Regions from separate parts of the Homo sapiens genome. Here region 2 is linked to region 1. The links come from fine-mapping of genetic effects on gene expression. A gene starts in region 1. The other region holds a variant in brackets. All regions are shown on one strand. Distances are from middle to middle.

Region 1 (5,375 bases):
TCTAAGCACTGATAGCATGAGACCAAAACTCAATAGCAATTCTCCACTAAAGAAAATTTTTTAAAAATAAAGCACTAACACAATGAGCACTTATCCATTCCATTTCCAAAAACAACTTACCTTCTGCACCTTCCTTTTGCAGATTTGAAATCCAGATTCTCACACAATCACTGGCCATCTCTTCTGTTTCATTCAACAGCATACACACCAGAGTGTCTCTTACTATTATATACATCAGTAGAGGCCGGGCGAGGTGGCTCATGCCTGTAATCTCAGCACTTTGGGAGGCCAAGGTGGGTGGATCACCTGAGGTCAGGAGTTTGAGACCAACCTGACCAACATGGTGAAACCCCATCTCTACTAAAAATACAAAATTAGCCAGGCGTGGTGGCACATGCCTGTAATCCCAGCTACTTGGGAGGCTGAGGTAGGAGAATCACTTGAACCAGGGAGGTGGAGGGTGCAGTGAGCAGAGATTGTACCACTGCAGCCTGGACAACAAGAGCGAAACTCTGTCTCAAAAATAAATAAATAAATAAATAAATAAAATACATCAATAGAAAGCACACTCACCTTATTCTGCTTTCTAATTATGAAAACAGGAGTGCAGGCCGGGCACAGTGGCTCACGCCTGTAATTTCAGCACTTTGGAAGGCCAAGGCAGTAGGATCGCTTGAGCCCAGGAGTCTGAGACCAGCCTAGGCAGCACAGCAAGACCCTGTCTCTATTAAATAAGTAAACAAACAAACATAAACAGAAGTGCAAATGCCCTAATCCAAAATTATTTTTAAAAAAGATACTTGAGGCCGGGCACGGCGGCTCATGCCTGTAATCCCAGCCCTTTGGGAGGCTGAGGCGGGTGGATAACCTGAGGTCAGGATTTCAAGACCAGCCTGGCCAACATGGTGAAATCCCGGCTCTAGTTAAAAAATACAAAAATTAGACCAGCATGGTGGCGCACGCCTGTAGTCCCAGCTACTTGGGAGGCTGAGGCGGGAGAATCGCTTGAACCCAGGAGGCGGAGGTTGCAGTGAGACGATATGGCGCCACTGCACTCCAGCCTGGGTGACAGAGTGAGACTCCGTCTCAAAAAAAAAAAAAAAGATATTTGAGATTAAATAATACAGAATAACTGCTCTCATCTTTCCCCTCAAACACCATACTTCAATATGAAATTTTAAATGGCTTTTTTCCCCAAATGGGAAAGAAGGATTCCTGGGTCTTGATGGGAGAGCAAGCAAGTTTAAGAGTAAAACATACTAATAAGCCATTGCAAACAGGTGAGATACGATCAGAGCGTGTGCTGTTGCAGGAAACAGAATGGAAAGCCGTGAATGGGAGTCTCTGCACTTCATATCTGCAAAAGAAGAGAATAAAAAGGTTAACTCCAGACTTAGAACAGGTTCTCTTCCCCTGTTGAAAGCAGAGCCCAAAAACATTTTAAATCAAAAAATGAAAATGTGGTTAAGCCAAATTTGTAGATGAACTCAACCTTCTTGTCCTTAATACATAAACTGAATCCCAGGTGTTAGAAGTTACTTGAACATTTTTATGCTACACCACCTTGACATTAAAGGATTTTTTAAAAATCTCCAATCTCTTCTTTAAACTTTTCTTAAACTATCATTAAAATTAGCAAAATATGCTTCTCTGTTGAATGGTTAACCTAACGGGAATGACTTCTAACCGTAAGAATTACAGTTAAAAGGTTCATTTTAACAAATGCTCTTCCCCCTGTAAGGAGTGACAGGTAACCTTTTGGGAACCCCAATGTACACACCCCTTTCTCCAATCCCGCTAAAGTTAAACGTTAGAGGACAGACAAGTGCCTCCTCGCAAGCAATGCCCCCCGCCCCCCCGTCCCCCCGTCCAACACTCCGTTCTCTGCAAAAATCCATCTGCATCTTGCATTAACCCACCCGCCCAGTGACGGTGACTCCAGGCCAAGTCGCAGAAGAAGACCAGGCGTGAGGGGTGAGACCTGTGAGCCCATCTGCACCTGCACCCTCCCACCTGGTGGCACACCTGCCCCGCAGGCGCCCACCTGGGGCCGGGACCGCCCTCTCCCGGTCTCGCGCGCCTGCCCCACTCGGAGCGCGCGCCACGCGCCGCGCAGGACCAGAGGGCGGGGCCCCGGGCAGCGGGGAAGCGAGGGCTCGGGGAGAGGGGGCCGCCCGGGCTCACTCCCTCCCTGGGGACCCAGCGGACCGGAGGGTGCTGGGGGCGGGCGCGGTACCTTTTGGACAGATCCATGAGGACCCCGGAGAAGAGCTTCTCCCCGAAGCGGAACGACACGACAAGCGCGTCCTCAATGATGTGGTCCAGCGTGACCCGCACCTCCGAGCCCGGGATCAGTTGCGACACCGTGGAGTCCCCGCCCGCCGGCGGCACGAGCGCCGGGGCTACGGGCTGAGGCAGCGGCGGCTCCTCGCGCTCCTCGGGAGCCGGGGGCTGCTCCGGCGGCGATGCAGGAGAAGGTGGAAGTTCCGGCCCTCCCTGAGGCGCGGCTGCCGCCGACTCCGCCACCCGAACGGACAGTTTCTCCTCAGCCTCCAGCTCCGGCCCCACCGCCTCTGGGCTGCGGGCGAGCTCCCCCGGCGGCGGCGGTGGCGGCGGGAGCGGCGGCTCGTCGGCCTGAGGAGCGGATTGCTGCCCGTCAGTCTCGCCATCCGGCACAGACGCTTCAGTGGCCGTGACCGGGAGGGGGTCAGTGCCGGCCTCACTGCCGGGGATGGGCTCCATCTCCGGCTCGGCCTCGCCGGCGCCCCCCTCCCCGGGGGACGCTGCAGTCGCTGCCGCCTCTGCAGCCACGGCCGCCATTTTCTTCCTAGCTTCTCCCTCCTCCAACTCCGGCTGCAGCGGCGGCGGCGACAGCGCTGCTTGGTTCCCTGGGCCTTCCCCTCCCTCCCGCGAACACTTTCGTCCCGCCCTTTCCCTGATGCTCGTTTCTGGCACCTCGCCATTGGTTGCATTCTACACCCCTCCCGCACTTTTGATATTCCATTGGCCAGGGATGGACGTCTATCATCTAGTCAGTCCATCCTTCCCACGCAGAGTAGGAACTTCTCATTGGCCAGATGTGTTGTCAAGTGTGGAATCTGAGTGGAGGAATAGGGGGCGGAATCAAAGGGGGCGGGGGAAGTCACAAAAGAGGAGCCATATACTCATCGCCTCTTGCTATTGGCTGGAAGAGGAAATAAAGTTTTATGGTTGGCCTACGCTCCTGCCCATTATCAGCCAGGTCTTTGGAGGTGGGAGAAAGGATGGAATCATGTGGCGTGCCACTTCTTTCAAAGGCGGCCGAGGGGAGGAGTAACAAGGGAATGCGGGAGGGGAACCGCTTCCCAAGAATCTCTGCGCAGAGATCCTTAGAATAAATGTTATTTCTAGGCGCGGACTTCTTGCGGCCGCGTGTGGGCACGACAGGCTTCTTTGGGAAAGACAACTAAAGTTTGAAATACAATCCTACAGACACTTTTTGAGTGCCTACTATGCTAGTCACTGCACTAGGTGCTGGGGAATGGAATGTTCAAGACGTTCTCCATAACCTCATAGCAGCGGGCTCCAGCGGCCATGAGGAGTACGAGGAGTATTTTCCTTGACTTCTAGGAGTATGATGAGTATTTTCCTTGACTTCTCTCCACTTCCTAGGAACAAAGCACCTATTTATTAATATTTCAGAAATAGGAAAATGCTCATGAAAGAAGAGAGACACCATCCTCACTGGATTAAACTGATGACTGTTCCAGGAAGGAGTCTTGAGACATTGCTGGACTGATATGTGAACACTGCTTGTTCTCTCCAAATCCACTTGCAAAGTGGACGCACCTGGTCCCTGCTAAAGCCTTTTTCTTTCCTGGCTTCTCCAATGCCACGAGAACAAAAGATCTCTCACTTCAGTGTCCTGACGCCCCTACTTCTCTTACTTCCACATCAAGTCTTTTCGTTTGTCATCTCTGGAAGAATCTACTGAACCTATTTCTCTCAAATGGCACCACAGAGTCAGCCTTTTTTCTGGGAGAATGCCTGCAGGAGAGAGGGTAGAAAAACTGCTAGCAATGAAAGTAAAAAAAATAAAGTCCTGAAGAATAATTACAGCTAGTGTCTTTTGAGTACCATGTACCAGGCACTAATACAAACACTATAGCATATCATCTCAATCCTTAAAATTTTGAGGCACAAAGAGGGTGCCCAAGGTTACTCGGCTGGTAAATTGCATAGTCAGAATTTCAGTTTTACATGGAAAAGACTGAAAATAGCAATAAACAAATATCACCATATGCTCTGCCTATTTCAAACCAAGTGGCTCGTGGGGAAAGGCCAGTAGAAGATCCCAATCAGGGAAGTTTCAGAATATCATTTAAAAATACAGAAAGAAACAAATGTACTTAGTGTTCATTTTGTACCAGAGATTTTCCCAAAACTCTCACTTAAAATCCTGTGACTTAAATCTTCTCCCTTTTTTACAGATGAGGAAGCCAAGCCTTAGCCATGTTAAACATCCTAAGCGGGCCAAGCGCGGTGGCTCAAGCCTGTAATCCCAGCACTTTGGGAGGCCGAGGCAGGCGGACCACCTGAGGTCAGGAGTTTGAGAACAACCTGACCAACATGGTGAAACCCCATCTCTACTAAAAATACAAAATTAGCTGAGCATGGTGGCGCATGCCTGTAATCCCAGCTACTTGGAAACCTGAGGCAAGAGAATTGCTTGAACTCAGGAGGCGGAGGTTGCAGTGAGCCGAGATGTGCCCACTGCACTCCACTCTGGGCAACAAGAGTGAAACTCCGTATCAAAAAAATAAAAATAAAAAGATAATAAGATCTTAAGGGTCATACAGCTAGCTAGCAGCAGATCCTATCTAACCTGGGTCCTTCCAAGTACATGACTTTCACTCAATCATTCATTCATCAAAGAGTTATCTCCTTCAGGCTAGATACTTGCAGTAAGCAGATACAGATTCTGCCTTATAGGGTTTTCACCATAATATTTTGTCTACAGTTCACCATAATCAACTAATTAAACACAACATAGAGTCTATGAAATGCCTAGACCCTAAGGTCTCACATTGTATAATCTCCCACAGGGAGAAAAATATAGTTCGGGTCCTGGGACCTGATTACCTCTTGTAGTAATTCATTACAAGATGCTGCAATGAGTAATTTACATTTCAGCTTCATAATAGATTGTGGCATACCAAGTCATTGTCCTAAGCCACCATTTCATTCTGTAACTCAAGAGCTTCTACTGGCTCCCAATGCTCACATGGAGTGTACCTTCTTCTGCTTGGCTTTCAAAGCCCTCTCTGTGTTGTCACCTTACCTTTCAAGGTCTCTTTTCCACTACTCTTCAAGCCTCCTAATACTAGAAAGATTTG
Region 2 (5,375 bases), 23 kb after region 1:
TCTACTAAAAATAGAAAAATTTAGCCAGTCGTGGTGGCGCATGCCTGTAGTCCCAGCTACTCAGGAGGCTGAGGCAGGAGAATCCCTTGAACCTGGGAGGCAGAGGTTGCAGTGAGCCGAGATTGCGCCACTGCACTCCAGCCTGGGCAACAGAGTGAGACTGTCTCAAAAACAAACAAACGAAGAGATGGGGTCTCAGTATGTTGCTCAGGCTGCTCTCAAATTCTTGGGTTCAAGCAATCCTTCTGCCTCAGTCTCCCAAAGTGTTGGGATTACAGGCATGAGCCATTACACACGACCTCAGTTGATTTCTGACTTGTCCACCTCCTGGCTCACTTTCAGAAGCTCAGCCCTCAGAGAAATCATGCCAGATTTCTTTTTTTTGAAACAGTGTCTCACTCTATTGCCCAGGCTGGAATGCAGCAGCATGATCATAGCTTCCCTAATTCCCCATCTTCCAAATCTGCAACTTCAGGATTTGAATTTGGAGGTGGAGAAGATTAGTACTGAGCATGTTTCCTCTTAGGCATTAGAAGTCAGGCATGGGCTGGGCGCAGTGGCTCACACCTGTAATCCCAGCACTTTGGGAGGCCAAGGCGGGTGGATCACTTGAGGTCAGGAGTTCGAGACCAGCCTGGCCAACATGGAAACCCCATCTCTACTAAAAATACAATAATTAGCAGGGCGTGGTGGCAGATGCCTGTAATCCCAGCTACTCAGAAGGCTGAGGCAGGAGAATCGCTTGAACCTGGGAGGCGGAGGTTGCAGTGAGCCAAGATTGCGCCATTGCACTCTAGCCTGGGCAACAGAGTGACTCTGTAACAAAAAAATAAAAAAAGAAAGAAAAGAGAAGTGACTTGCCCAAGGTAATACAGCCAGTAATGGCTGAGCCAAGGCTGCAAACCTGATTTGTCAGACTCCATAGCTTAGAACTGTGATCTAGTTTCTTCAGGGTCATGTCATAACTAGTAAGTGATGGAGCCAAATTCCAACTGAAACAAAAAGGAGAGACCATGCTCTCCCCCAGGAAATGCTAGAGATTATAAATGACAAAAATAGGCCGGGCGCAGTGACTCACACCTGTAATCCCAGCACTTTGGGAGGCTGAGGTGGGTGGATCACCTGAGATCAGGAGTTCGAGACCAGCCTGGCCAACATGGTGAAACCTCGTCTCTACTAAGAACACGAACAGATGTGGTGGTGGGCACCTGTAATACCAGCTACTCGGGGAGGCTGAGGCAGGAGCATTGCTTGAACCTGGGAGGCAGAGGTTACAGTGAGCCAAGATCATGCCATTGTATTCCAGCCTGGGCAACAACAGTGAAATTCCATCTCAGTAGTTCAAAGGAAACTTCCTGAGAAGAGAATTTAATTTGAAAATATCTCCGTTCTACCTGGCATGTGATATAAGAAACATTTGGCAGTCTGCCGTGGGTCAGGATTTCTTTTTTTTTTTAATTATTTTTTTAAATTATACTTTAAGTTTTAGGGTACATGTGCACAATGTGCAGGTTTGTTACATATGTATACATGTGCCATGTTGGTGTGCTGCACCCATTAACTCGTCATTTAACATTAGGTATATCTCCTAATGCTATCCCTCCCCGCTCCCCCCACCCCACAACAGGCCCCGGTGTGTGATATTCCCCTTCCTGTGTCCATGTGTTCTCATTGTTCAATTCCCACCTATGAGTGAGAACATGCGGTGTTTGGTTTTTTGTCCTTGTGATAGTTTGCTGAGAATGATGGTTTCCAGCTTCATCCATGTCCCTACAAAGGACATGAACTCATCATTTTTTATGGATACATAGTATTCTATGATTTCTATAATAAATCATTCCCATTGCCAATCTTACCAAAAGAATATTCTATTGTTATACAAAAAAGCTAACAAAAATAACTACCATGTTCGGGATGTTTACTACATGGCAAGGACTACATTAATAAGCATTTCTTGTATATTAATATCATTCCATCTTCATGATAGCCCTATGGGTAGATATTATTATTTTCATTCTATACGTTAAGAAATTGAGTCTCAGGCCGAGCACAGTGGCTCACGCCTGTAATCCCAGCACTTTGGGAGGCCGAGGCGGGTGGATCACGAGGTCAAGAGATCGAGACCAGCCTGGACAACATGGTGAAACTCTGTCTCTGCTAAAAATACAGAAAATTAGCTGGGTATAGTGGCAGGCACCTGTCATCCCAGATACTGGGGAGGCTGAGGCAGGAGAGTCATTTGAACCTGGGAGGTGGAGGTTGCAGTGAGCCAAGATCGCACCACTGCACTCCAGCCCCGGTGACAGAGTGAGACTCTGTTTCAAAAAAAAGAAAGAAATTGAGTCTCAAAGAGGTTAAATAACTTGCTCAAGGTCACCCAGATGGAGGGTGGTAGAGCCAGAGTTCAAAATGACAATGCTATTGTTTTCATCCCTGGCTAAGCATGAGAAAAATGAAGATTACCAGGCCCTACTTAAAGCCACCAACTTGAGATTTCCCAGGGATGTGGCCCTGGGATGTATTGAAAAGTCTCCACAGGTGACCTGAAGCCCACCAAAAATTGAAGACCTAGCCCCCGTTAGGCCTTAACCCAAAACTCACCCTTATAACTGCTCACCTGCCTGGACCCAGTACTAATCATATTAGTCGCTGTTAGAGAAGAATGTCTGTTTGGTAAAACCACTGATGGCCTTTGTGAAGGCTTTGGTTTAGTGATTAGCTTTCAAGATGCAAACTTTGTCCTTGGAATAGTGGAAAACAGCACGTAGGCTTAGAAATTCTTTTTTTTTTTTTTTGAGATGGAGTTTCACTCTTGTCACCCA[G/A]GCTGGAGTGCAATGGTGAGATCGCAGCTCACTGCAACTTCTGCCTCTTGGGTTCCCTGGCCTCAGCTTCCCAAGTAGCTGGGATTACAGGCGCCCACTACCACACCTGGCTAATTTTTTTATTTTTAGTAGAGATGGTGGGTTGCAGGGGAGGGGGTCTCACCATGTTAGCCAGGCTGGTCTCTAACTCCTGACCTCAGGTGATCCACCCGCCTCCACCTCCCAAAGTGCTGGGATTACAGGCATGAACCACCACGCCCGGGCTAGGCTCAGAGATTCTGAGAGGAAGGGTCTCAAAAACCCAGATCATCTAATATCTTCAGAGACAAGGAAGATGCCTTTCACTCTGCCTGGAACATTGTGCCCTCTCCTCACCTCATTAGCGACTTTCAGATCACAATTCCCTTACCTAGCCATAGGAAGCAGGTACTCCCACATAGCTTTCTCTAGTTGTTTTTTTGTCTTTTGTTTTTTTTGTTTTGTTTTTTTGAGACAGAGTCTAGCTCTGTCACCCAGGCTGGAGTGCAGTGGCTCGATCTCAGCTCACTGCAAGCTCCACCTCCTGGGTTCACGCCATTCTGCCTCAGCCTCCTGAGTAGCTGCGACTACAGGCGCCCGCCACCACGCCCGGCTAATGTTTTGTATTTTTAGTAGAGACGGGGTTTCAGTGTGTTAGCCAGAATGGTCTTGATCTCCTGACCTCGTGATCCGCCCGCCTTGGCGTCCCAAAGTGCTGGGATTACAGGTGTGAGCCACCGCACCCAGCCAGCTTTCTCTATTTGTGTGTGATTATTTACTTCTTGTTTCCTTCTTAACTAGACAAGAGAACAAGGAGCACATCTTGTTTTGCTCATCTCTAAATGCAAGCCCCATGCGTACGATATAGAAGGCACTCAATCAGTAATACCTAATCTTTGTGTACCTTCTTCTATGCACCAGTGACTGTGCTGAGCAGTTCATATGTATTATCTCACTTAATTGTTACAACAGTCCAATCTTCATTTCACAGATGAAGAACCCAAGGCATAGAAAGACGAAGTGGTCACTTAATTTTTTTTTTTTTCTTCTTTTAAAAAATTTATTCTTCAGGCCGGGCGCCGTGGCTCACGCCTATAATCCCAGCACTTTGGGAGGTCAAGGCGGGCGGATCACCTGAGGTCGGGGGTTCGAGACCAGCCTGACCAGCATGGAGCAACCCCATCTCTACTGAAAATACAAAATTAGCCAGGCGTGGTGGTGCCTGCCTGTAATCCCAGCTACTCGGGAGGCTAAAGCCGGAGAATCACTTGAACCCGGGAGGCAGAGGTTGTAGTGAGCTGAGATCTCACCATTGCACTCCAGCCTGGATGACAAGAGCAAAACTCCATCTCAAAAAAAAAAAAATTATTCTTCAAATGACAACTTTTAAAAAAATTATAGATTCAGAGGGTATATGGGCAGGTTTCTTACATGGGTATATGTTATAAATCTGAGGTTTGAGCTTCTAATGAACCCATTACCAAGAGTGAACATCGTCCCTCGCAGGAAGCTTTTCATCCCTTGCTTTTCTCCCTCCCTCCGCTCTTTTGGAGTCCCCAGTGTCTGTTGTTTCTACCTTTATGTCCCCGTGTACCTTTTGTTTAACTTTTTGTTACCTAATTGGTTTTCTGTTCCTGAGTTAATTTGCTTAGGGTAATGGGCTTCAGTTGCATCCATGCTGCTGCAAAGGATATGATTTCATTTTTTTCTTTTATGGATGTGTAGTAGTCCATGGTGTGTATGTACCATATTTTTAAAATTTAATCTATCATTGACAGTCAGGTTGATTCCATGAGTTTGCTACTGAAAAGAGTGCTGCAATAAATGTACGAGTACAGGTGCCCTTTGGATAAGATGATTTCTTTTCCTTTGGGTAGATAACCAGTAGTGGGATTGGTGGGTGAATGGTAGTTGGTTTTTTTTGAGATGAAATTTTGCTCTAGTTTCCCAGGCTGGAATGCAATGGCACAATCTCAGCTTGCTGCAACTTCTGCCTCCCGGGTTCAAATGATTCTCCTGCCTCAGGCTTCCAAGTAGCTGGGATTACAAGCATGTGCCACCATGCCTGGCTAATTTTTTGTATTTAGTAGAGACAGGGTTTCACCATGTTGGTCAGGCTGGTCTCAAACTCCTGACCGCAGGTGATCCACCCGCCTCGGCTTCTCAAAGTGTTGGGATTACTGGCATGAGCCACTGCGCCCGGCCTGTTTTAGTTCTTTAAGAAATCTCCATACTGTGTCTCATAGAGGTTGTACTAATCTACATTCCCATCAACATTGTAAAACTGCTCCCTTTTCTCTGCATCCTCACCGTCTGCTATTTTTTTACTTTTGTTTTTTGTTTTTTTTTTTTTGAGATGGAATTTCACTCTTGTTGCCCAGGCTGGAGTGCAGTGGCATGATCTCTGCTCACTGCAACCTCCACCTTCCAGGTTCAAGCGATTCTCCTGCCTCAGTCTCCCCAGTAGGTGGGATTACAGGCGCCTACCACCACGCCTAGTGTCTAGAAGGTTTTTATAGTTTGAGGTCTTATATT

Alleles and levels. Alleles are on the strand shown, and positions count from the first base shown. SD is a standard deviation of normalised expression in the study named.
For the expression in testis of the gene that starts at base 2,882 in region 1, A is the high allele of the variant in region 2 and G is the other (small effect, 0.18 SD a copy in GTEx).

Evidence for each region. PIP is the estimated chance that this variant, and not a neighbour inherited with it, causes the effect. A credible set is the group of variants that fine-mapping cannot tell apart.
Region 2: its variant is the best candidate, but not a certain one, in a credible set for the expression of PWWP2A in testis (GTEx, PIP 0.82).

Annotation. Positions count from the first base shown.
Region 1 is chr5:160,116,569-160,121,943 of GRCh38, forward strand. PWWP2A (PWWP domain containing 2A) reads right to left here and starts at 2,882. Exons shown (of 2, transcript NM_001130864.2): 1 at 2,237-2,882. The coding sequence starts at 2,820. RefSeq lists silencers at 1,878-2,297, 2,418-2,597, 2,698-2,797, 2,958-3,007 and an enhancer at 2,434-2,933.
Region 2 is chr5:160,139,603-160,144,977 of GRCh38, forward strand. No RefSeq gene overlaps it. Among named protein-coding and RNA genes, the nearest start is that of PWWP2A, 23 kb to the left of the region's middle. The variant G/A (reference allele first, on the strand shown) is at 2,823.